Linked DNA regions of Homo sapiens. The protein of the gene in region 4 purifies or fractionates together with the protein of the main gene of each other region. This does not show direct contact. Each region holds a gene or a part of one and is shown on either strand. Other genes may lie near its edges.

Region 1 (3,500 bases), on a different chromosome or scaffold from region 4:
CGAGTGTTCATGGCAGCACTATTCACAACAGTCAGAGATGAAAACAACCCACATGTCCATCAACTGAGGAATGGACAAACACAATGTGCTCTGTCCATGCAATGGACTATGATTCAGCCATAAAAAGGAATGAAGTGCTGCCACACACTACAAACACGGATGAACCATGGAACACCATGCTCAGTGAAAGAAGCCAGACACAAAAGGCCACATAGTGTATGATTCTGTTTCTAGGGAACACCCAGAATAAGCAATCCACGGAGACAGAAAGCAGATTGGTGGCTGCCAGGAGCTGAGGGAAGAGGGGTAGGGAGTGACTGCTAATGGGTACAGATGCCCTTCTGAGGCGATGAAACGTTCTGGAACTAGAGAGAGGTGATGGTGGCACAACAGTGTGGAAGGTACTAATGTCAATGAATTGTACACTTTAAAAGGGTTAATTCTGGTGGGACGCGATGGCTTACACCTGTAATCCCAGCACTTTGGGAGGCCTAGGAGAGTGGATCACCTGAGGTCAGGAGTTCAAGGTCAACCTGGCCAACACAGTGAAACCCCATCTTTACCAAAAACACAAAAATTAGCCAGTCATGGTGGCAGGCACCTGTAGTCCCAGCTACTCGGGAAGCTGAGGCAGGAGAATCGCTTGAACTTAGGAGGCAGAGGGTACAGTGAGCCGAGATCACGCCACTGCACTCCAACCTGCGTGACGGAGAAACAAACAAAAAGGCTAAATTTATGTTATTTGAATTTTACTTCAATTTCAAAATAATTAATATGCAATATGCTGTCTTACGGAACTAAACTTTTTCCAAAGAAAATAATTGGCAGTTCAAATATTATTTGAAGTTGAACCAGTAGAAATGATTTATACTCTCATGAGATCATACTTTATATTCATGTTTGGGCCTGTGTTCTTTTTTCAAAGAAATGTAACATACCTCCTAAGGCAACATTCTTTATCTTCGCATTGATAATACCATCTCGTTCTTGGTATAGTTCCAAATTAGTAACGCATTTAACATCAAAATTGTGAAGAAATGCCACTGGGGCGTTCTGCATACACTGCCCAGCCAGGGACACCTGAGGGAGAAGGGCAAAGCCAACAGATTTATGGCCTCTCTCCTAATCATACAAAACAGATCAGCATCCCTTAAAACTGGTCTTTCTGCAGCCTGCTCCCATTGCTGGTCTGGTTTCAGCAACGGCAAGTTCACCGACTAGTTGACCCGCTTTAGCAAAACATCTAACTGATTTGCCCATCAAGGTCTGGAAGCCACTGGTTGTGGAGTCACAGTAAATATTGTCTAATAAAAACAAAGAAAATCCCTTGTCCTGTTCTATTTAGTTTGCAGAGACATGACTATATTTAACTTCATGTTCTCTCCCTCATCACAACCAGAGTTTAATACCATAAAAATGGATTCATATGAATAGGAAAGAGAAATTTTCACCTCCCATGCTTTCTTCCCACAAATAACACTCCTCATAATGTTGAACTTAAAAAAAGATTTCAGGTTGGGAGCAGTGGCTCACACCTGTAATCCCATCATTTTGGAAGGCTGTAGTGGGAGAATCATTTGAGCCCAGGAGTTCAAGACCAACCTGGGCAACATAGCAAGACCCTGTCTCTACAAAAAGTAAAAAATTAACCGGGTATAATGGCATGCACCTATAGTCCCAGCTACTTGGGAGGCTGAGGTGGGAGGATTGCTTGAGCCCATGAGATGGAGGCTGCAGTGAGCTGTGACTACACTCACTACACTCCAGCCTGGGCGACAGAGCAAGACCCTGTCATTCATTCACTTGTGCATTCATATATAGATATACAAATGATTCCATATACAACCTTACAGCCTTAAAATATTTTTCAAAATTCTAGAATGGTAAATAAAATGATGTATTTATCTAACCATTGTTTTTTATACCGGACCCTACTTGAGGGTAGTGAGTAGGAGGAGGGAGAGGATCAGAAAAAAACTATTGGGTACTTGGCTTAGTACCTGGGTGACAAATAATCTGTACAACAAAACCCCATGACACAAGTTTACCTATATAACAAACCTGCTCATGTAGCCCTGAACCTAAAATAAAAATATAAAAAGAAAAAGAAGCAAAGAATGATAGTTACTGCTAGCCAGGCATCAAGGCTCACACTGTAATCCCAACACTTTGGCCAAGGCAGAAGAATTTCGAGGCCAGGAGTTTAAGACCCGCCTGGGCAACATAGTGAAACCCCCATCTCTACAGAAAAATTTTTGGCTGGGCGCGGTGGCTCAAGCCTGTAATCCCAGCACATTGGGAGGCCAAAGTGGGCAGGTCACTTCAGCCCAGAAGTTAAAAAGACCAGCCTGGGCAACATGGCAAAACCCCACCTCTACAAAAAATTAGCCAGGAATGGTGGCATGTGCCTGTAGTCTCAGCTACTTGGGAAGCTGAGGTAGGAGGATCACTTGAATGTGGGAGGTCAGGGCTGCAGGGAGTTGAGATCACGCCAGTGCACTCCACCCTAGGTGACAGAGCAAGACTATGTCTCAAACCAAAACAAATTTTTTTAATTTAAAAAAAAAAAAGACTCATGCCTGTAATCCCAGCACTTTGGGAGGCTGAGGCAGGCAGATCACCTGAGGTCAGGAATTCGAGACCAGCCTGACCAACATGGAGAAACCCCGTCTCTACTAAAAATACAAAATTAGCTGGGCGTGGTGGTGCATGCCTGTAATCCCAGCTACTTGGGAAAGCTGAGGCAGGAGAATCGCTTGAACCCGGGAGGCAGAGGTTGCGGTGAGCTGAGATTGTGCCATTACACTCCAGCCTGGGCAAAAACAGCGAAACTCTGTCTCAAAAAAAAAGAAAAAGAATGATAGGTACTTCCATGGAAACTTATAGAAAATCTTTTGGTTTTATTTTGTAAGTTCACTCTGAGTTTTAAGCAAAGACAGTGATTAAGAGTGACTATATATTTTATTAATTTGGAGAACATAAACAGTTAAGTCCCTGAAAGGTAGAAAGGAGGAAAGTAAGTAACTTAAAAAGAGATTTTAAAGAGAAATATGACTTAAATTAACAATAGGACAGGAAAAATAAAAGAAGGGTCTAGTGGCCAGGCATGGTGGCTCATGCCTGTAATCCCAGCACTTTGGGAGGCTGAGGCACTAGGATCACAGGGTCAAGAGATCGAGATCATCCAGGTCAACATGGTGAAACCCCGTCTGTACTAAAAATACAAAAAATTGGCTGGGTGCGGTGGCACACACCTGTAGTCCCAGCTACTGGGGAGGCTGAGGCAGGAGAATCACTTGAACCCGGGAGGCAGAGGTTGCAGTGAGCCGAGATCTGGCACTGCACTTGAGCCTAGGAGGTAAGAGCGAGACTCCGTCTCATAAAAAAAAAAAAAAAAAAGAGAACGGTCTAGCATACTAATATTGCAACGATTACCTGCGGAATAGTAAAATATGCCTTCTTTACAGTCATAATGGGATCTCCTTGTTTGTAACCAAAGT
Region 2 (3,500 bases), on a different chromosome or scaffold from region 4:
GCTTCCCAAACCTGGGATGCAGCCACCCCAACCTGTCCCAGCTCCGCCCACTGCTCGCGGAGTCTAGGATTTAAATGAAGTGTCACGAAGCCCCTCTCCTGGGCCATGCTGATTGGGCACAGCGGGAGGTGGGGCCTCCAGGGACGCAGTGTCTCCAGGTCAGCATGTTCTTGGAGAATGTTCTGTCACAGTGGAACATTCTAGACCCGTGCTGTCCAGGGTGGTGGCTCCTGAGCCTTTGAAATGGCACTGGTGTGGCTGAGTGTCTGGGCTCTTCACTTCATTTAAGTTAAGCAGCCACGTGTGGCCAGTGCTGCCAGGCAGCCCAGCTAATGGCAGTCCCTGAGGTGGTGTTTGGGGCACAGAGGGCTGGTCTCTGCAGGAATGGGTCCCCTGGGCCGGAGCTGAGCTGCAGGTCTCAGTGCAGGAGCCATGAGTGCAAGCCAGCATGCAGGCCTAGGAGGGTGGTGGCTGTGTGGAGTGGGCCCCTGAGGGCCTGGTCACATCTTGCCCTTGTGCAAACGAGTGCGTTTGAGCACGCCTATCTCATGATGCTCTGCGTGAGATGCAGGTGGTGGGGGCAGCACATCTCTGGTTGGGTGGCAGGGGACGGCCTTCACTTAACCATGGGCCCTGCACCTCTGTGGGCCTCGTTTCCCCGTCTGCATGGAAAGCCATGCCCACTTTGGATTCGGAGCTGGGAGGGCCACAAGGTCACTGCTCAGGAGGGAGCAGAGGCCTATCTGAGCAGCGCCTGGACTCTCGCCTGCAGCCTGCCCCTGCGCTTCTGGGTGAACGTGATCAAGAACCCACAGTTTGTGTTCGACATTCACAAGAACAGCATCACGGACGCCTGCTTGTCGGTGGTGGCCCAGACCTTCATGGACTCCTGCTCCACCTCTGAGCACAAGCTGGGCAAGGACTCACCCTCCAACAAGCTGCTCTACGCCAAGGACATCCCCAACTACAAGAGCTGGGTGGAGAGGTAGGTGGAGGGTGCAGGGGTCGGGGGCAGGGGCCCGGGGGCAGCCTGGACTCTGCTCATGTGCCCACCTGGCCACTCACCTGCAGGTACTATGCAGACATCGCCAAGATGCCAGCCATCAGCGACCAGGACATGAGTGCGTATCTGGCTGAGCAGTCCCGCCTGCACCTGAGCCAGTTCAACAGCATGAGCGCCTTGCACGAGATCTACTCCTACATCACCAAGTACAAGGATGAGGTGAACACCGTGGGAGCCCACAGGCTGGGCTAGGAGGGCTTGCCGGCCCCTGCCAGAGTCACCTGCTCTGCCCCGCCCTGCCACTCCTCCCTGAATCTCTGGGCTGCCACTGACCACCTTCACTCCTCTGCACCCTCTGGCCACCTGGTTCCTTGGGGCCAGGAGGGAGCCTGCCAGGCCGAGCAGAGAAGGCCGTGGTGGAGTCACTGTGTGCAGCCATGTGGGGTCAGGGGTGGGGAAGATGGGATGGCAGCTTCTTCCTGAGGCAGAGGGTGTGTGGGTGGTGAGCAACTTCCCTGAGGGGCTCATTTCAGGGTTTTCTAGTCTGGGCCAGCATCTCCAGGGCTGGGCATAGGCTCTTGGCAGAGCTTTCCTTTCAGTATCTTTTCTGCTGACTTGGAGTGAGGCCACGTACATGGACCTGGGGACGGGGTCCAGGAGGTATCCAGGAAGGAGAACTGGCTCCTGGGCCGCACAGGATGGGAGCACGGGGCCAGAGGGCAGGACAGTCTCGGCCTGTGCCAAGGCTCTGAGGGCTAAGAAGGCCACGGGAGTGAACCAGAGCCACCCTGGGGAGGCCAGGGCAGGTGCAGCAGAGGCAAGGAACCTTCCCCAGGGTGCCACAGGAGGCAGACAGGAGGCAGAGGGCTGTCCTCAGGCAGGTGCCCCAGGGGAGCAGAGGAGCAGCCAGAGACTGCATGTATTAGGGTGGGGAGTGGGGACAAAAGCCTGGGGTCCTGGGGCTCACCAGGGAAAGGGGAGCTGAGGCTCTCTGGGGAGCTCTGCTTTAAAGGGGCACAGAAACCCCAGGGTGTGAGGACTGGGTGGGGACATGTCAGCAGCATGGCCAGGCAGCCAAGGGATCAGAGCCTGCTGTTTTAGGGGGTGAGAGTAGGATGATGACAGGGGCAGGGCTCATTCTCCATATTGGGGTCCTGGAGGGTCCAGGCTCACAACCAAGGTCCTTTGGCCAGGGGTAGATGGGGTTGAACCTCTGGCACCTACTCTGGAGGCATCTGCCCTGGGCCTGCTGAGTGCATGGAGGCTGGTGGCCCGGCATGCTGACAGTTCTCCTGGCCCTGCAGATCCTGGCAGCCCTGGAGAAGGATGAGCAGGCGCGGCGGCAGCGGCTGCGGAGCAAGCTGGAGCAGGTGGTGGACACGATGGCCCTGAGCAGCTGAGCCCCAGCTGTGATCATCCAGCATGATGCAGCGTGAGGACAGCTGAGCAGGGACCGGGACAGCCCTCACCGCATGCGTGTGGAGTGTCCGGTGGTGCTCGGGCCGCCGCAGTGCAGCGACTGCCCGGCCCTCCCTCCCCTGCCTCACCCGGTCGGGTCCCGGCTCTTCCTGTGTGGAGGTGATGGTACCTGCCACACCACAGCTGCGCACACAGCTGCTTGCTCAGGGGCCGGGACAGCACTGGGTGCTCAGGCTGGCCAAGGACCTTCATTGCCTGGCAAGAGCTGCCCAGTGGCCTTCATGGGAGAAGGGCTGACCTCTGAGGGGCTGAGGGGTGAGGCCAGGGCCCTCCAGGGGGAGGGGTAGCCAGCTTGGGCTGTCCCCTTGAGACCAGGACAAGAGGCTGGGGGTGTCAGCATTCCCAGCTTTCCAAGCTGCCCCCAGGCGGCAGAGTCTGAGGGTCCCGGGGCCCGGTTGGCAGCTGGAGAAAGAGGCAAAAAGCCCGTAGCCGGGCAAGAGGAGCTCAAGTCGGTCTGGGCCCGTTGCCACCGACTCCCACCTCCAGCACCCATGCCCGCTGCACCGCTGCCATCCTCAGATTCACCGCGTGCTCTGCGCGGCCGAGGCCGGAGCACCACATCCACCTCGCCCCAGAGAGGCTCTGCTCCCTCCTATGGAGGGGCTGTGGGCCAGGCTGCTCAGACTCCTGGGTGGCTTCCAGACGGACCGGGCAGCCCCTCTCCGTCCTCAGGGCTGTGCCTCTGGGAGCCACTGGGCCAGGGGCCCCGGGTCGCAGAGAGCACGTTCCCGTTATTTATTCCCCTCCGCGTCCTACACAGGCTGCCCTGGCAGCTGTCTTCAAGGGTAGGCTGAGCTCCCCACCCTGGAGCCCCTGAGGGCGGCCCCTGAGCACTCCTCTCTCTCCACTCTCTCTGTCCCTGCCCCAGCGGCTTCCAGTGTGGCATCTCAGCAGTGTCCTGGCCCCTCCAGAGCAGTGGGACATCTGGGGACTGTTTTTGTGTTTAGGGGAAAAAATTCTGCTGCACTCTGCTTGGGCCTTGAGGTCTGTGGCAGGGCTCCTCTGGCCCGCAGTGGCC
Region 3 (3,500 bases), on a different chromosome or scaffold from region 4:
TCAGCGTTCCCTTAAATCAAGGCCAACACCTTCCATGCCACCAGCTGTTTCCAAGTATCAAATTAATTACATTAATCCTCACAACCAACTTATGACCTAAGTACGGTCATTATCTCCATTTCAAATAACCGAGGGCCAGAAAGGTTAAGTAACTTGTTCAAGGTCACACAGCTACTAGCGGCAAAGCTGATACACGAACACAGGCCGACTGGCTCTGGAGCCAGCTCTGCCCACAATGGCACTGCCTGTGTGTCCTGTGCACAGCAGGGAGAAGCACTCCTTGCACTGCCTTCCTCAGTGGGGTGCTGTCAGGGAGCAGGCCGGATTTATGACCTCTCAGTGTAGCTGCACCTCACTCGGGAAGAGAATGAGGCAGCCGCCAGCATTTGTCCTGATTTGTGCCTGCACCACACAGTCAGCCTTCCAGGGCTGGCCCATGAGTCCCCTCCCTTGGCTCACCCGTGTAGCCATCACGACAGAGGCAGGTGTAGCCGCCCTCGCGGCTGCGGCAGCGCCCGTGGGGGCCACAGGGCCGCGAGTAGCAGAGGTCCACCTCGGTCTCGCAGTAGTCACCCGTGAAGCCGGGCGGGCAGCGGCAGCGCAGCCCTCCGACGGGGTGGATGGGCCGGAAGAGCACGGAGGAGGAGGCGATGAAGGGCGCGGAGGAGTCGAAGCGCAGCACCGACACGCAGCGCATGTAGTTCTCGCAGGGCTCCCGCAGGCAGATGTTGTCGTCGAAGGGCAGCACGCGCTGTGCCGAGATGGCCGTCAGCAGGCTGCGGTTGAGGTATAGGCGCTCCTGCAGGTCCTCAGAGGGCAGGAAGGGCGGCCCGCCCCCGGGCCCTGGCGGCTGGCCCACCGACAGGCTCACGTTGAGGATGTGGCCCCCGGGGGCGTCGGTGTCCCGCTGTACGTTGAAGACCACCACGTGGTCCGGTGGCGTGGCCAGCGTGGCGGCCACCGCCTGGATGAAGAGGCCTAGCAGTGGTGACAGGAAGCGCTCGGGTGACATGTCCTCCAGGCGCAGCGTGATGCTGTGGGTGAGCATCTCATCGGTGATGATGGTCACACGCAGCGCGCACTGGGCGGTCACGCTGTGTACGCCGTCTGTGGAGAGGGACACAGTCAGGACCCAGCCTGGGGCTGCAATTCAGCCTGCATATTCCTGCACCACCCACCAAGAAAGGCTCTCCTTTCCAACTGGCATAAGGGTGCTGAGCCAGGTATGTCACGTGTGGGCCAATCACTCCTTCAGGGCTCAGGGGATGAGATTTGCAGTTCTCTTTGCATCCTTTCCCAAAACCTTCTGTCGCTGATGCACGGCACACCTCTTAATGTTTGTGCACCTTTCCCTGCCCAAGCCACCGCTCCTGCTCCCTTCCCCCAGAGTCTGTGCTGCCTGCGCGGGAACCCTATGTTGTCTTTTTCATACTTTTCTACAGGGCCCAGAGCATCCTGAGACCCACAAAAATCATCCCCCTGCCCCCTCAGCCTCTACACCTCAACACCACGATAATCGCAACCATGGCTGTGTTCCCCACTCCCCCACAGCAGCAGGGAGTTGGCGGGGGTGGGGGGGAGTGGGTAAACTGGGTCAGTGGGCCACCTAGTCCCCCTCCCACTGAGCCCCATGGCTGCTTGGGCGCGCAGACCTGCTATCCCCATGGCAACATCCAACACAAAGCATTCTTCCCGCCCAACTCTCTGGGCTGCTGTGGGTAGCCTGGGGGGCCCCACCCCAGGAAATCCAGCTGAGCCACGTTAACCAGTGACATCATCACCCACTGCCCCATGCTGGAGACAGGGTGAGTCGGGGTGGGGGACCGGAAGGCAGAGATAGAAGGGCCTGGGCAGCTCTCCACTCTGAGACCCCAGAGCCCCACTGAGTCAGTCTCTTCTCTGGTCCTAGGGCCTCTAGCTACTCATCACCCACTTGGCTCAACCATTACACCCAAATGCCTGCTATGCCCCCAGGCAACACACTCACTTATAAACAGCTAAGCACTAAAACACACTTGCTGGTGTCTCATTCCACCCACACACCCTAAGCCCAGAAATACCATACACACCTGAATGCACATACACATGGGAATGAATTTTATTTAGCTAAAAAATGAAAGCTGGGGCCTGGAGAAGGAGGAAATGGCTTTACAGGGCAAGAAGGGATAGTCTTTTTTTTTTTTTTTTTAAGAGACAGACTCTCTGTCGCCTACACTGGAGAGCAGTGGCACGATCATAGCTCACTGTAGCCTCGAACTCCTGGGCTCAAGCGATCCTCCCACCTCAACCTCCCAAATAGCTGAGACCACAGGTGCTCACAACTATGCCTGGCTAATTTTTGTTTGTGTGTAGAGATGGGGTCTTGCTGTGTTGTCCAGGCTGGTCTCAAATTCCTGGCCTCAAGTGATCCTCCATCTCAGCCTTCTAGAGCACTGGGATTACAGGCATGAGCTACTGGCATATTCATATTTGTATTTATTACAATGCCTTACACATAGTAGGTGTTCAGAAAACACTGAGATGTGGATGACAATCTATTCAGTCTCCACAAAGAATAAACGGACTTTAAAACATAGCAGGGGGCCGGGCGCAGTGGCTCACGCCTGTAGTCCCAGAACTTTGGGAGGCTGAGGCGGGTGGATCACGAGGTCAGGAGTTCGAGATCAGACTGACCAACATGGTGAAACCCCGTCTCTACTAAAAATACAAAAATTAGTTGGGCGTGGTGGTGGGTGCCTGTAATCTCAGCTACTCAGGAGGTCCCAGATACTCAGGAGGCTGAGGCAGGAGAATTGCTTGAACCCAGGAGGCAGAGGTTGCAGTGAGCCGAGATCGCGCCATTGTACTCCAGCCTGGGTGACAGAGTGAGACTCTGTCCCAAACAAACAAACAAAACCACATAGCAGGGGGAGCCCAACTAGATATAAAAAGCAAATGCTTACCCTAGCAGTAACGGGGCAGGAGCCCATGTTTCTGGGGTGGGGTGGGAGTAGGCAAGGGACATGGGAACAAATTCTGCATCTGTGTTGTACCTACTTGCGGTGGCTGACTGTACCAGCGGTGGCTCAGCTGAAGCCGGGAAGGCTGAAAGCAGACCCCCATCTCAGCCATGTCCTCAGCCGACTGCCCACCTACCCTCCAGCCTCATCACTTGCTTATTCTCACTAGCTCTCACCAGCAAGCCTGCTTGTCATCACCCACTTCTGTTCCTCCTGCTCTCGTCTCAAAGCTGCTGCACAGGCTGTTCCTTCCCACCCAGACACCAGCCCACAGTCCTCTGAGTCTTCTAACCTGCCCTAGCTCACCTGCTCCAGGAAGCCTGCCCAGATTTATGTCATCAGGCTCTACTTTCCTCTCCGTTTCAGACTTCCCCGCACCAGGATGCTCAGCTGGCACAGAGCTCTTGTATACCTGGTATATCTGCCTAATGATTCCTTGACGGGATATTCCCTCCAGGCAGAAAGCAGCCCAAGACTCCACACACAGTGCCCATAACTGAT
Region 4 (3,500 bases):
TTATATTTTAAAATATACTATTAGTTTATAAAATCAGCTAACCAGAATTGTATATTTACTTTCCTTTCCCTACCTCTCATTTTTCCTATAATTTAAAATATTTTTAATAACAAAATAAAATTATATACAACAAGAACAAATGAGAAGTACTACAAATGTCCATCAAACAAGATTGGTTAAATACATTATAGAAAAGTATATAATGGAATATACTTTCCTATTAAAAAAAACAAGCTGTATTTATGTGTTGTTGAGAAAATGTCATGTTAATTTAAAAAATAAAGTGCAAAAGAGTACATATGATTCGAGTTGTAGAGCTACTACAATAAAAACATATTTAGGTTTGTGCATATAAAACATAATTTTAAAATATGCTTCTCTATCTATCTGTCTATCTATAGGTTTTTTGGAAGGATTCTTAAGAAATTCTCGTCATAGTTTGATATTGAAACTGAGGATACACTTTCTGTAATGTTTGTTTTTTTCCCATATTAAAAGTAAGAAAATTAAGTATAATCATCCCACCAAAGTAAAAACAACACTTGGTTATTACTAGTCAAATTAAAGTAACTGTAAAATAAGAATTTTTACCTAACTCTAAGTATTTTATAAAAATGTATTTGAGCTATGTCTTAGATAATAATTTAAAATATTATATAAAACTGTCATTAATTTAAACAGGTTATTAAGATATTAAGTTGTATATTAATAATTTTCTTAGAACTGTATAAATAAGAAGCTTTTATTTTACATTTTGTAGCCAAATTTTTAAATGACTTTGAAGTCCCCAAATCCCCTCTTCATGCTTACTATCTTATTTGCTCCACTCTTCTTTTTTTTTTTTTTTTTTTTTTTTGAGACGGAGTATCACTGTGTCATCCAGGCTGGAGTGCAGTAGCATGAGCTCGGCTCACTGCAACCTCTCCCTCCCTGGGTTCAAGTGATTCTCCTGCCTCAGCCTGCCAAGTAGCGGGGACTACAGGTGTGTGCCACCACATCTGGCTCTTTTTCGTATTTTTAGTAGAGGCGGGGTTTCGCCATGTTGGCCAGGCTCGTCTCAAACTCCTGACCTCAGGTAATCCACGCACCTTGGCCTCCCAAAGTGTTGGGATCACAGGCATGAGCCACTGCACTGGGCCCAAAATTGCTCCATTCTTTATTAAAAAAAAAAAATACAAAATGTTAATTTGAAAAATGCAGCCCATGTGTGGGGCTTCTGAAGAAATACCAGTAAAAAAGTGGCAATCCCACACCAATTTTATGCTTTCATACATTCTCTTAAACTTGCAATTTATATATCTGATTTGTCCCCATTAGATTACTCTCTTACTATTTTTCAAGATTCTTTTTAAATTATGAATCTACCTATATATCTTTTCCTTCTGTTTTACTGAATATGGTTTCAAAAGAATGACAATATATTACAACAATACCTAAGAGTATCTGAATTTTGTGACTGATGGTTTCATCTTTAGAGCTTTTAGAAAAATCTAAAATTAAATAGGTTTTTAAAGTTAGTAAGGAATCACAGTTTTTGGAGGGCAAAATGTTTAAGTAATGATGTCTGACCATATGAAAACTATCTAAATGATCCTCACTGTGTTCAGGAATCTTGTTTTACAAATCACTGAAACTTTTTATTTTAATTGCAGTACTTGGAAGAGCCTTCACATTTTAACATTATGATTATACACACCCTAAATTCTGTGTCTTGGGTGCTTTAATTGCTCATGAGAGGCAACCAACTCCAGTAATCAACAGAGGATATGAAACTTCTTATTTTGCTGAACTGTATTAACCACAGGGTTTCAGAGAGGTAAGTCAAAGGAGATGTAAAACAGTTACTTAAAGAATAGTTCTTTGGGGAGTTTGCCTTTGCTTTCATATCACAAAAATCATTTTTGTTTCATCAGCGCTCACACTTCCTTATTTTCATTTACAGTTCCAGCAGCAAGTACACACATTAGGTCAAAACGCTATCTTACATACATCAATGTATTAGTTTCAATAAAATCCATAAATGAAGTTGCCTTTCACACGTACACCATGTGTACAAATTTCCATTCTATTTGAAAAGTCACAAGCCTCTCTAGAGCTACTTTCATTATTCTTGGCCACAGTTTAGAACTCAATACCTTGACACTTTAAGAGGGTATATGTAGATTTGTGAACAGGAAGGTGGAGAGAGAAGTTATTTCTACAGAATTCAAAATCAGTTTAGAAAATATGCCTAATTCATAGTAACCAAAAAAAGCATACCATTCCTTTCACCAGTGGTCAGAAGTTTGGCCTTGTTGCTCTTTGGAATAAAATGGTTAGGAATTAGTGAAGTAGTTTATATTTATAATGGTTATAAAAGTGAATAGGACAAAAGATAGGAGTCTTGTTAAATTACTAAAAGAATCTGCAAAGTTTATGTTTAAAATATCTGTAAAAACCCATGTGTATTCACTGTTAATCATATATAACACTATCTGGATTCTAACTTACTGAAAATGCACTACTGCAGTCACTCCTCTTATTTCATGCTTTGGTTTTGGTATTGGATTGAGAAATATAAACCAAAATCTAGGAAACAAAGGTACTAATTCAGAGTAATCTTAAGTTTTCTCATTAGTTTTCCATAGTCAGGGAGGACTTACTTCAGATTATTTCTTTCTAAAACTTAATCTGCTATCACTGGAATGTGTTTGTGTGTGTGTATGTGTGTGTGTGTGTGTGTGTGTGTATGTTTAAGATGGAAACATTATCTTTTTAAGGTGTTTTTCAGAGTAACATGATACCCAAACAAAAACAGACATGTTCTTAACACAATGCACTGTAATGTTACAGTTTCTTAAGATGCACATTTTTTTAAGAGTCAAATTGTAATTACCAGGGATATTTGTAACTTAAAAAAAAAAGGCGGTGACTTACTCTCCAAATGCAGTATTTTTATCTTATTTTGTTGAAACTTCCTGTCAACCACCAAGAGAATGTGTGTTGAGTAAACATGATCTAATTATAAGAATGCAATTTAGGCCAGGCACGGTGGCTCATGCATGTAATTCCAGCACTTTGGGAGGCCGAGGTGGGTGGATCACGAAGTCAGGAGATCGAGACCATCCTGGCTAAGACGGTGAAACCCCATCTCTACTAAAAATACAAAAAATTAGCCAGGTGTGGTGGCGGGCACCTGTAGTCCCAGCTACTTGGGAGGCTGAGGCAGGAGAACGGCGTGAACCCAGGAGGCAGAGCTTGTAGTGAGCCGAGATCGCACCACTGCACTCCGGCCTGGGCAACAGAGTGAGACTCTGTCTCAAAAAACAAAACAAAACAAAACAAAACACAAAAAACAAAAAAAGAATGTAATTTAATTGTGTGCAAAATAATACAATACAAGAAACTATCTAGAGATTTAAACAGGAAATGGTAAATCCTTGCAGGAAATTATCTCAGGAACAAAACAAAAATACCTTAGCCCAGTTCCTATTACAGTATAAGAAACTATTTTTAAGTCT
Region 5 (3,500 bases), on a different chromosome or scaffold from region 4:
AAAAGGGAAGACTCCCTCAGTTCCGGGAATTGCCCACCCCTTTCCCAGAAAACTCATGAATAATCCACCCCTTGTTTAGCATATCATCAAGAAGTAACAATTGTATAAGCAGCTGAGCCGTCAGTGCTACTCCTCTGCCTATGGAGTAGCCATTCTTTATTCCTTTACTTTCCTATTAAGCCTGCTTTCACTATTCCCTATGGATTCGCCTCAAATTCTTTCTTGCGTGAGTTCCCTCTCTTGGGGTCTGGATTGGACCTCCTTTCTGGTGACAGCTGTAGTTAGGATTTTTTTTTTTTTTTTTTTTTTTTTTTTTTTTTTTTTTTTTTGAGACAGGGTCTCACTCTGTCACTCAGGCTGGAATGCAATGATGCAATCGTGGCTCACTACAGCCTCAACCTCCTGTGCTCAAGCAATCCTCCCATCTCAGCCTGCCCAGTAGCTGGGACTACAGGAATGAGCCAGGACACCCAGCTTTTTTTTTTTTTTTTTCTGTAGTGACTGGGTTTCGTCATGTTGCCCAAGTTGGTCTTGAACTCCTGGGCTCAAGCCAGGATTACAGGCATGGGCCACCGTGTCCAGCAGGATTTTGTATATTGAAGACTGTGTTTTATCATATTTGGGAACCTTGATAGTCATGTTTTCTCTTTTTTTTTTTTTTTTTTTTGAGACGGAGTCCCGCTCTGTTGCCCAGGCTGCAGTGCAGTGGCATGATCTTGGCTCACTGCAATCTCCGCCTCCTGGGTTCAAGCAATTCCCCTGCCTCAGCCTCCTGAGTAGCTGGGACTACAGGCGCCCCCACATCACACCCAGCTAATTTTTTGTATTTTTAGTAGAGATGGGGTTTCACCGTGTTAGCCAGGATGATCTCGATCTCCTGACTTCATGATCCACCCGCCTCGGCCTCCCAAAGTGCTGGGATTACAGGCATGAGCCACCTCACCCACCCTTTCTCTTCTAATAAAAATAGCAATAATTTAGTATTGTTTGCTAAGAAATTATTCTGTGCCCAGTAGTGTACCAGGGACATATCTCATACGTTCATGATCTCATTTGTATGTAATCTTATAATACCTCTACAAGAGGTATTGATTTTTCCCATCTTATAAATGAAGACACTTGAGCCTCTGCCTGAGGTCACATAGCTGGTGAGTGCCATCAATCCTGGTCCCACCGACTCTGTCCCTATTTACATTTCCAGAGGACTGACGGGGGGAAACACTGCCAGCCATGCCCACACTCCTGCCTCATCTACAGGAGGAAGGGGCCACTGCTCAGCCTCGCACCCGGCTGCCTTCAGGGAAGGCTGGGGAAGGCTGAGGAAGGCTGGCTATAGTGTTCCCTACATGTGCCCTCCTGAGGTGATCCCTGGGAAGGAGATAAACAGAGAGGCCACCCATCCAATCTGGGATTTGTCACCATGGGCCATGTCTGTGTGCTTGTCTCTCGTCACCCCAGGTCAGCCCAAGAGGCAGGGACCAGGCTCCCTCAGCGTCCTCCCCAGGATCCTTGAGTCTCGAAGGAAGGGTCACTGGAAGGTGGGAAAGAAGAGGGGAGGGGAGGCACACCAGGCAAAGTGATCGTGCGTGGGCAGAAGCCTGGAGGTGGAGAAAGCTGGGGCAGGACAAGAGACCAGAGGCATGGGGGGCCGGGGAAACTAGGAAGAAGTTGGTCCTTCTTCTACAACAAAAACCAGAGCTGCGGAGGGCAGAATGCACAGTCAGAGAAAGAGAAATCAGGAGGAGTGGGAGGCTGAGGGGAGCAGAGCGCAGGTGGAAGGGTCTGCGCTGTGAGAGTGCAGAGCCAAGAGGCTGGTGCCCAGCGGCGGAAGGAGAGACGAGGGGCCAGGGGGAAGTGCAAGAAGGGAAACAACCGGTGGAATTCCACGAGGGGCCACAGTGTGCAGTTGAGGGGGTCGACCCAATCTGTTTCCTAAAGGGCTGCAGCTGGTGGACCCCGGCAGACCCCGGTGTCACAGGTGCCACTGGACAGCCCTCATCCAGCTGCCGTTTACTGGTACAACCCCTAGCTGAAGAGTGACAGATCTGCAGGGCCCAGGGTGAGCTCCAGGAGCGCGTCACCACCCCACTGGCCCACCCCACCCAGATTCACAGGACCCAGGCGTGGGAAAGCGGCCCCCTCCCATCTCACGTAGGCCTGAACAGGAAGACACGCTTCCTATCAGCAGTGCTCAGGCCTTCCAAGTCCAGGGACCCCCACTGGAGACACGGTGGGGAGGTCTCAAATAAAGAATAGGCCATGGCCATCTCTACTTCAGTTCTGCAGGAGCTCAGCAGACACCCACTGAAGGAATGAATGAATGAATGAACAACCATGTGAATCCTTGACCTCAGGGAAGCTGGAGTGCCATGCTGGGGCACCTTGAGTCACTCACTTATCAATGCCTTCTTGGAGGGGGTCCCTCAGAGATCCTGAGGACACTGCAGGCGGCTCGGTCCAGGCCTCCTGGACCCACAAGGAAGTGGCTGACCCAAGCGCCCAGACCGCTGACATGTGACAGAGGGCTGCTCGCTCCACCCTCCTCCTCAGGAGTCCTCCCGGTGGGACACATTGAGAGGTGTCCTAGAGGGCTTGGAGTTATGGGGGCGGGGAGAACACATAAGGCAGAATTTCCCAGGCTTTCCTAACACACACACACTGACAGTGCTTCATGCGATGGAAACGCTGTATGGTACTGGAGCGTTCAGGCTCCGTAACCACTCCTGGGTTCGAATCTCACTGGTAACACCTTCTAGTGGTGTGGTGGCACAGCCTTGAGTGACTCCCTTAACATCTTTAACATTTTCACGCCAGGTGTGTGCAAATCTCTGACACCTGCTCAGAGATGGGAGGTGCCGAAGAGCTACTGCCAGCACAGGACCCAGCACGGCGCCCACCACATGCACAGCGCAGCCGTGGGTGCCATCGCTCCATCCCTCTGGGGGTATGGACAGTGCAACAGGACTCCTCCTCGATGCTTAAACTGATGAGGAACTCAAATGAATATCTGCCTGAGAACTGCATGGCACTTCCGAAATCATCTCATTGAGCCAAGTCACGGTGCCCTACGTGCATCAGAAAGCCAGGATTTCTCTGGTGCGAAAAATGGGGGCCAAAACCCGGGGTTCTTCCTCCCCTCCATGTACCCTCACCTTGCCCAGGTGAACCCAGAAGAGAGCCAGGATCCCAGCACTAGCCACAGCTCGGCTGGGCACCTCCTGGGCCCTGATGACTCACAGAGAGCCAGAGGGTTGGAGCAAGGAAAACTGAGTTTTGCGTGGGGGAACAGTAAGAAGTTTCCGAACCCCACGACTCAGCAGAAGCTGGGCCAGAAGTGTAGGGAGCTGGTCTGGCTGACTCTGGTCAGAGCCCCAAGTACCCGATGCCACCCTCCCTGTCCTTTAGGCAGCACCGACCTTCCCCACAGGAAGATTTCCTGAGGTCTCCTCACCCCATGGCCTTGAGACTTGATCCCTGGAGCTCCCAGAAGCCCCTTTCCC
Region 6 (3,500 bases), on a different chromosome or scaffold from region 4:
GTTCAACTCAGAGTCATCCGTCAATGGACAGTTTTCTTCTATTCTAAATATCCATTTTCAAAAGAAAGCAACACAGCAGTTTTTCCACTAAGGCTTATATGGTACACAAGGCGTAGAATCAAATCACATTATTTGCATATACAGGTGATTTTTCCTTCGAAAATATTCTATATTGCGTAATTACACATTCAAATCATTCTAAACCAGCCCTGTCCTGTTATGATGCATGTGATTTAGAGGAAATTACACATCTTACCAAACATGACTGCAAATCAGCTTGCAGTTATAATAGAGCCAGCAAGATATTTATGTCCAATAACCACAGAAGCTCTAGGATAATGGCCAAAGAAATGAGACATGGGAGCCATATGAAGGGGCACAGGAGTCAGAGTCCTGTTCAGGTGTTCAAGATACACGAGCTACCTTGTCCAGTGCCACCAAAGGAATCAGAAACATCTAATGAACTACTGATTTGGCTACCCTTCATGTGTGAAGCTGCTGCTGCTGCTGCTGCTGCTGCTGCTTCCTTCAGGACTGGCCTGTGTGTGTGGACATTTCACTGAAAAGGACAATGGAGAAGTAGCTAACTTCCTTGACTTCACCAGAGGGGCTTGGGCAAGGCTCCTCTATGCTCCCATAATATCCTGTTTCTCTCTCTACCACTGCACTAACCTACTGCAGTGTAATGCCTCTATGTCTCTCGCTAACCACCTGTATCATAATGCCTCTTTTTGTGTCTATTTCCATCATTAGTTGACAGATTAAGGGCATGGACTAGGCTTTAGTCACCTGTGATTGCCAGTTTAATCTAACCCCACTTTGGGAGGCCGAGGCGGGTGGATCACGAGGTCAGGAAATCGAGACCATCCTGGCTAACATGGTGAAACCCCGTCTCTACTAAAAATACAAAAAAAATTAGCCGGGTGTCGTGGCAGGCGTCTGTAGACCCAGCTACTCAGGAGGCTGAGGCAGGAGAATGGCGTGAACCCGGTAGGCAGAGGTTGCAGTGAGCAGAGATCACGCCACTGCACTCCAGCCTGGGTGACTGAGCAAGACTCCATCTCAAAATATAAAAAATAAATAAATAAAATCTAACCCAAGACCCTTCATAGAGCAGAAGCTCCCCAAAATTTTGTTGGATATATGCGAAAATGAATAATGCAGGACAGGCACAGTAGCTCACATCTGTAATTCCAGAACTTTGGGAAGCCAAGGTGGGAGGATCACTTGAGGCCAGGAGTTCAAGACCAGCCTGGCCAACAGAGTGAGACTCCATCCCTACAAAAAATTACAAAATTAGCAGGGTGTGATGGTATGTGTGTGTAGTCTCAGCTACTCAAGAGGACTGCTTGAGCCCAGGAGTTTGAGGTTACAGTGAACTATGATCACATCACTGCACTCCAGCCTAGGTGACAGAGCAAAGATCCTGTCTCTTAAGAAAAAAAAAAAAAAAAAAAGGAAGGAATTTAGTGCATTGTTGTTTTACTGCATACAAAGAAGCGTTGCTCTTTAATTCCAGCTGTAGTCAGTATTTACAACATTGCTTTATATCTTTGACACTTCTGCCCCAGCTGAGTCCTTCAGTTCCTGAACATGCCTCTGTTCTAGCTGCTGCTTTTTCTTCAATTGGAGTTGAAGCTCCAGTTCTTGCTTCTGGTATTTCTTCTGCCCTGACTGGAAGAAACCCTGCTCCTCCCTCCCTCCCAGGCCTCATCCAGCAGCTGTCTGACCAACCTGCTGGTCTGTCTGCCAAGTTCATAGTAAGTGTGCCCAGCCCAGCAGAGTTGGGCTAACTTTAAGGCAGGCACACTGGCCTTGTGCCAGGCCCTTGCTGTTAGGAAGCCTGTACTGTCCTATAATGTTAAATGGGCCTTATAAGTGCCTGGCGAAATGGCTCCCAGAGCCAGATATGCCTTCTAACAAGCAGGCATTGTTACTTAGCTGGTTTACCTGTGCAATCTTATCTCCTCCTCGAGAATGTAAACTCCTTAAGGAGTTGTGCTGGAATACGTCCTTGTAAAATCCCCTGAATACCCAGCATAGAGCTCCATGCTCAGTAAGCTTCCAATAATCATTTCTCCATTTGAGAACAACCACATCCATCAATATTTCTCAGCCCTGGCTTAACATTAACAGATGCCTTTACATGCACTATTTCCTTTAAGTCCACAGAGCAAATCTTGAGGAAGAATCACCATCCTCAATTTTACAGATAAAATCACCCAACTTGCAAATGGCAGAGCTGGAATCCAGGTCTCTACCTACCCAATGTGGGGCTCTTTCCACTCCACGATGCTGCTTGATAAAAACTTGTTGCATGAATAAATAGGCAAAAACCCGTCTCCCTGGACACAGCCACTTACTGCTCCCAGACCTCAATGCCACCATGGCTCCTCTGCACCAGACCCATGAGGAGATGATGATTAGGTTTTTGACTTTTATCCATGATGTATGATGTCTGCTGTCAGGGGAACAGTATTCAGTGACAGCTTTCCCAGAGTACTGGCAAAATTGGTTGGCACAACTTATTTAAAGATTTTTTAAAATATATTTTGTCCATTATTAAAAAGGAACAACAAAAATCATGAGTAGGCAGCCCCCACTGGAGAATTTTCCAAGAAAATCTTCAAGGTAGACGCTTTTCAAACTGTCTTCTCTATCAGCAAGTGCGAAAACTACGTCATGGGAAACTATAGTGCTAAAAGAAGCCTAGGTTTTTGTTTTTGTAAAATTACCCCCTTGCAACTCCTTATAAGCAGTAAGTGCTGCCACTTGAAATGCTGCAAAACAACAGGCCTGGTTTGAGGGCTACTTTATAATTTCTCAAACTTTAAAATCGTCTTTCGAGAATTTCAGCAGCAGAAGCAATATAAAAGTCTGAACATTGGCTTTTTACATATAAAGAGGCCTATAGAATGTTTCTCATAAAGTGAGATGGTGTCCTGAAAGGCCTGTACTATGCTCAAAATGCCAAGGTCAAATGAAAGGAGTCAATCCCTTAAGCAAGGGAAGACATTCTTTTCCAAAGAGACACAACTATCCCCCTCTCCACCCCCACCCTGACCATCTTCGTAGGAAGTCACACCTTAAAGCCTATGTGAGGCTTACCTCTGAAAAACAGATTAGCTCCACCTCTATAAAATCCATCATGCTGCAGGGAGGGCTATATAACCTACACTTTAGGTAACTAAACCCACATAATTTCAGACCCACTGAACAAATCCCAAAGGTTTACAGATGAGAATGTGGGGCTCAAAATCTTTGTTCTAAGGCCAAAAATCTAACCTGCATTCGACTTTTTTTTTTCCGACCAGTCTAACTAAATTAAAAAGAGACACTTTCTGCAATTTTCCCAGTTAGAAGCAAGTGGCAGATCAATGTACAGCTCAAGAAGCAGAATTTAAATACAGTATGTGTGTCTCCTTTCAAAAAAGGAGAGAAGCCACTTCACATTTTGCCAGACAAAACCCTGTCCACAGGAGGTCCGTTTCCACAATGAG
Region 7 (4,155 bases), on a different chromosome or scaffold from region 4:
GGTGCACAACACCACACCTGGCTACTTTTTGTATTTTTAGTAGAGACGCGGTTTCACCATGTTGGCCAGGCTGGTCTTGAACTCCTGAACTCAGGTGATCTGCCTGCCTTGGCCTCCCAAAGTGCTGGGATTACAGGTGTGAGCCACCACGCCTGTCCAACAAGTATTAATTAAATGAATAATGGGTTAAGGATTTTTGAACTTTGTCCTGAAAATGATGGTGGGTCAATGATGCAGGGTGGAACAATGGATGAAGGGCTAGGAAGCAAGTCATCAATTTCTTGCTATAAATGATGACAAGGACTCGAATGGTCATCCCTTTGTAGATGAAAGCAAGAGACTTGGTGTTGGGATGAGGATGAGGGGTGGCCTCCGGGTGATGGTGCCATCTGTGGAGATGGAATAAGTGGGAGGAGGGGCAGATTTAGGAAAAGATGAGTATTTCCATTTGACACATATTCAAGATTTGTAGGTCTAAAGCTCAGCAGAGAGGCTGGGGTTAGAGAGCGAGGCCTGGGAATCCCTGGTGTATAAGGGGTGGTAGAGGCCCCGGGTCTGGATGGTGTGACACAGGTGGTCGTCAAGTGACCATGCACTACTTGTTGTTCACAAGTCCCAGGGCTTTGTCTCCCCAGCAAGACTGGGTATTCTTTGGGGATGGAAATACTTTCCACTACAGCACTAAGTACACAGTACACAGCTCATTGCTAGGAAGATAGTCAAGAACAGAACTTGTAGAGCAGAAAGGAACCTTCAAAACCAAGTTATAGGAGAGAACTGAGGCCCTACATGGTTAAATCACATGCCTGAGGTCACTCAGCTAAGCAGCCACAGAGCTGGCTGTAGGATCAGGTCTCCAGACTGCCAGTCCGGTACCCTTCTGAGAAGGCCGCACTGCCTCAGAGCTGTGAGTTGAGTGAGCTGAGAAAGGTGACAGGGCTTGGGCTTTGGGCTTACTTAGCTTCTATGAGCCTGCGTTTCATAATCAACAAGATTGTCAGGGGTTAACTGGGACCATGCTGCATGTAAAGCATTGTGTCTGGAACACAATAGGTGCTCAATATGTGTTTACTTTCCATTCCTTTCTTCCAAGAAGACCAGAATTTGCAATGACAAAGAAAGGATGCAAGAGTGATGGATGCAGTTGGCTGCTGCCACCTGAAAGGCTGCAAGACTGAGAGGTGAGTGACATGACCCCGGGCATCACATTCCTCATCAGCAGACAGAAAGTGGCTATTGCTTTCCTCCAGAAGGTGTGCAAGTAGAAGCTTTGCTCCTGGTGCCAGAGTGAGCCTGTGGCTGCTTTCCCTCCCACACTCCTCACTCCTTTCTTGGCTCCGCCCTGCTGACTCAGTGACGCAGCAGGAGGAAACTGCTCGGGCTGCAAGCAGTCTTCCAGGCTTTGCGGCTGCCAAAGGAATAATTGAGACGTCTGAGTTGAGCAGGTAAGGCAGGCAGAAGGAGGAAAGCTAGAAAACCTCGATAAGTCGATCCTGAAGAATTCTTGGGCTTTGGAGACTGGAGAGGCCAGGGGCTGGAGGACTTGGGAAGTGGGAGGGGAGCTCCCAGCCCTTGGCTGCCCGGAAGGATCTTCCTCCAGTGCCCTTCCAGAGTTCTGTCAGAGTCCACACGTCATTTATCCATGTCCTCAGTTTCTCAGGCATCTCTTTGCGACTTACTCAGGTCGCACAGAGAAAGTGAAATTGAAAGCAGGATTGTCTGTTGGAGTACTTCCGCAGGCTCGTCTCTTCTCTACTCTGATGCGTCACTCAGGGCTTCCTTGATATTTCCTCTCCTTCCCGGCTCCTTTGTTTATACCAGCCCACCTCACATCTGATTGTAATGGGGACGGTCTACACAAACACTTTGGTTCAAAGATTTCATTGCCTGGTGATCGTGTATGTGTTGCACAATTAATTAAACTTCTAAGAGGCTAATCAATTAACCTCTGAGGCTTTGAAACTGTCAGAGTGGTGAGATTGCTGAAAAAGGGTTGCTTCGTGAATTCTATAGCAGATGCAGTTATTTAAATATTCAGGTAACAGTTTCGGGCTGTCTGATGATTGAACTGGATCTGTAATTCTCAGATCTGATTGACAGTTGGACGAAATTGATAGCTGCCAGTTGCCTATTCGTGTAGTAGCTATATGCACATGTGTAGGGAGAATAGAATTCACTAAGCAATTTATTTTTTCATAACGGGATATAATTAGCTCTAACATTCATTGAGTGGCTAATATTTGCAACACTCCATACTTTAATGTACTTTACACACATGACTGTATTTATTTTTGTCTCCATTTCAGGAAATAGAAAATTGAGATTCAACAATCCAAGGTTACAGGAAGTAATAGTAAAAAATTACACAGCCACAAGCTCAAACTTAGATCTCCCTAAGGTCAGAGTACAAGCTCTTTTCACTACTGCAGATACTCCTTGACTTATGATGGGGTTACATACAGATAAACCCATCCTAAATTGAAAATATTGTAGGTCAAAAGCACATTTAATACACCTAATCTACTGAACGTCATAGCTTATCCTAGCTTACCTTAAATGTGCTCAGAACACTTACATTAGGCTACAGTTGGGCAAAATCATCTAGCTCAAAGCTTATTTTATAATAAAGTGTTAAATGTCTCATGTATTTATCGAATGCTATGCTGAAATAAAAAACAGAATGGTTGTATGTGTACTTGAAGTGTGGTTTCTACTGAATGTTTATTGCTTTTCCACCACTGCAAAGTCAAAAAATCATAAATCAAAGTCAAAAAACATAAGTCAGATATTGTCTGTACTTTAAATAGGGGCACAGGGTTGTACAAAGAGGACATGCACAGAGTCAGCAAACACAGTGATCAACCTTCCTGGTGACATAAGAAATGCAAAGGGAAAAAAAGCCAAGAAATATATTTTTCTTATTGAATGAGGGTTCTTCTTTTTTTATTGATAAATAATTGATGTGCATATTTTCATGGTCTTTTTTTTTTTTTTTTGGAAGCCACCTATCTCTGGTAAGAATATATTTATATGACATTGAAAGCAATTTGTTAATATAGGTTAAGAATCCTAAATACAATCATATCTTTTGAATAGTCATTAAATTCTTTGAAGTCTATCATATGAAATCTATCATAAGATCTATCGAAAGAAAATAAACTAAAATAAGCTGAATTTGCTGCAACATCATTTAGATTTTTTAAATTTTTAATTTTAAAAAACCCTTTAAAACTTATTTTTGAAAACCACTCAGTAATAGAGAAATGAAACAACTGTATGATTTCATATTACATAGTCATGAAAAATGTTTTACAAGACTTTGCAATAACACAGGAAATGACTTATAGTATGGTATTAAATGAAAGGAAGTAGGATACAGTTACTTACAGAGTATAATTCCAAATGTCTTAAAAAATATATAGAAATACACTAAAATATTAACATTGGCTGTTTCTGGGCATTGGGACTAGAGAAATAATTTTCTTATTTTGAATTTACATATATTTATAATATTCTGTAATTTAAAAGTTTTATAAGAAATAAATATATGTATTTAGAAAAAATGCTAATATAATTAATTTCTCTGATTCAAGTGTTTTCTCCCTATTGTAAAATTACAAAGCACCTCTCTTCGTTGCCAGGTGGAATGTCAGAAGACTGAGAACATTGTTCCTTCTTCATACTGCTGCTCTGTTGCCAGAGAATCCCAATTTACACTCAAAGCTTCTTTGATTAAGTGCTAGGAGATAAATTTGCATTTTCTCAAGGAAAAGGCTAAAAGTGGTAGCAGGTGGCATTTACCGTCATGGAGAGCAGGGATCATAACAACCCCCAGGAGGGACCCACGTCCTCCAGCGGTAGAAGGGCTGCAGTGGAAGACAATCACTTGCTGATTAAAGCTGTTCAAAACGAAGATGTTGACCTGGTCCAGCAATTGCTGGAAGGTGGAGCCAATGTTAATTTCCAGGAAGAGGAAGGGGGCTGGACACCTCTGCATAACGCAGTACAAATGAGCAGGGAGGACATTGTGGAACTTCTGCTTCGTCATGGTGCTGACCCTGTTCTGAGGAAGAAGAATGGGGCCACGCCTTTTATCCTCGCAGCGATTGCGGGGAGCGTGAAGCTGCTGAAACTTTTCCTTTCTAAAGGAGCAGA

Evidence for each region.
Region 1: the proteins of ST8SIA4 (region 4) and TCTN2 purify together in Homo sapiens (affinity purification with mass spectrometry; 2 studies listed by BioGRID and IntAct, with this or other methods). This does not show direct contact.
Region 2: the proteins of ST8SIA4 (region 4) and PLXNA1 purify together in Homo sapiens (affinity purification with mass spectrometry; 2 studies listed by BioGRID and IntAct, with this or other methods). This does not show direct contact.
Region 3: the proteins of ST8SIA4 (region 4) and CELSR2 purify together in Homo sapiens (affinity purification with mass spectrometry; 2 studies listed by BioGRID and IntAct, with this or other methods). This does not show direct contact.
Region 5: the proteins of ST8SIA4 (region 4) and MRC2 purify together in Homo sapiens (affinity purification with mass spectrometry; 2 studies listed by BioGRID and IntAct, with this or other methods). This does not show direct contact.
Region 6: the proteins of ST8SIA4 (region 4) and CACHD1 purify together in Homo sapiens (affinity purification with mass spectrometry; 2 studies listed by BioGRID and IntAct, with this or other methods). This does not show direct contact.
Region 7: the proteins of ST8SIA4 (region 4) and RNASEL purify together in Homo sapiens (affinity purification with mass spectrometry; 2 studies listed by BioGRID and IntAct, with this or other methods). This does not show direct contact.

The regions. Positions count from the first base shown.
Region 1 is NC_000012.12:123,688,113-123,691,612, reverse strand, and holds part of TCTN2 (tectonic-2 isoform 1 precursor), read right to left. Parts: coding exon 3,436-3,500; intron 1,081-3,435; coding exon 939-1,080; intron 1-938.
Region 2 is NC_000003.12:127,031,615-127,035,114, forward strand, and holds part of PLXNA1 (plexin-A1 precursor), read left to right. Parts: intron 1-772; coding exon 773-985; intron 986-1,071; coding exon 1,072-1,222; intron 1,223-2,307; coding exon 2,308-2,403; 3' UTR 2,404-3,500. UniProt on the Homo sapiens protein: Coreceptor for SEMA3A, SEMA3C, SEMA3F and SEMA6D. Necessary for signaling by class 3 semaphorins and subsequent remodeling of the cytoskeleton. Plays a role in axon guidance, invasive growth and cell migration.
Region 3 is NC_000001.11:109,256,039-109,259,538, reverse strand, and holds part of CELSR2 (cadherin EGF LAG seven-pass G-type receptor 2 precursor), read right to left. Parts: intron 1,108-3,500; coding exon 460-1,107; intron 1-459. UniProt on the Homo sapiens protein: Receptor that may have an important role in cell/cell signaling during nervous system formation.
Region 4 is NC_000005.10:100,851,283-100,854,782, forward strand, and holds part of ST8SIA4 (CMP-N-acetylneuraminate-poly-alpha-2,8-sialyltransferase isoform a precursor), read right to left. Parts: intron 1-3,500. UniProt on the Homo sapiens protein: Catalyzes the transfer of a sialic acid from a CMP-linked sialic acid donor onto a terminal alpha-2,3-, alpha-2,6-, or alpha-2,8-linked sialic acid of an N-linked glycan protein acceptor through alpha-2,8-linkages.
Region 5 is NC_000017.11:62,630,670-62,634,169, reverse strand, and holds part of MRC2 (C-type mannose receptor 2 precursor), read right to left. Parts: intron 1-3,500. UniProt on the Homo sapiens protein: May play a role as endocytotic lectin receptor displaying calcium-dependent lectin activity. Internalizes glycosylated ligands from the extracellular space for release in an endosomal compartment via clathrin-mediated endocytosis.
Region 6 is NC_000001.11:64,473,129-64,476,628, reverse strand, and holds part of CACHD1 (VWFA and cache domain-containing protein 1 isoform 1 precursor), read right to left. Parts: intron 1-3,500. UniProt on the Homo sapiens protein: May regulate voltage-dependent calcium channels.
Region 7 is NC_000001.11:182,586,457-182,590,611, reverse strand, and holds the start of RNASEL (2-5A-dependent ribonuclease), read left to right. Parts: upstream 1-1,355; 5' UTR 1,356-1,445; intron 1,446-3,641; 5' UTR 3,642-3,805; coding exon 3,806-4,155.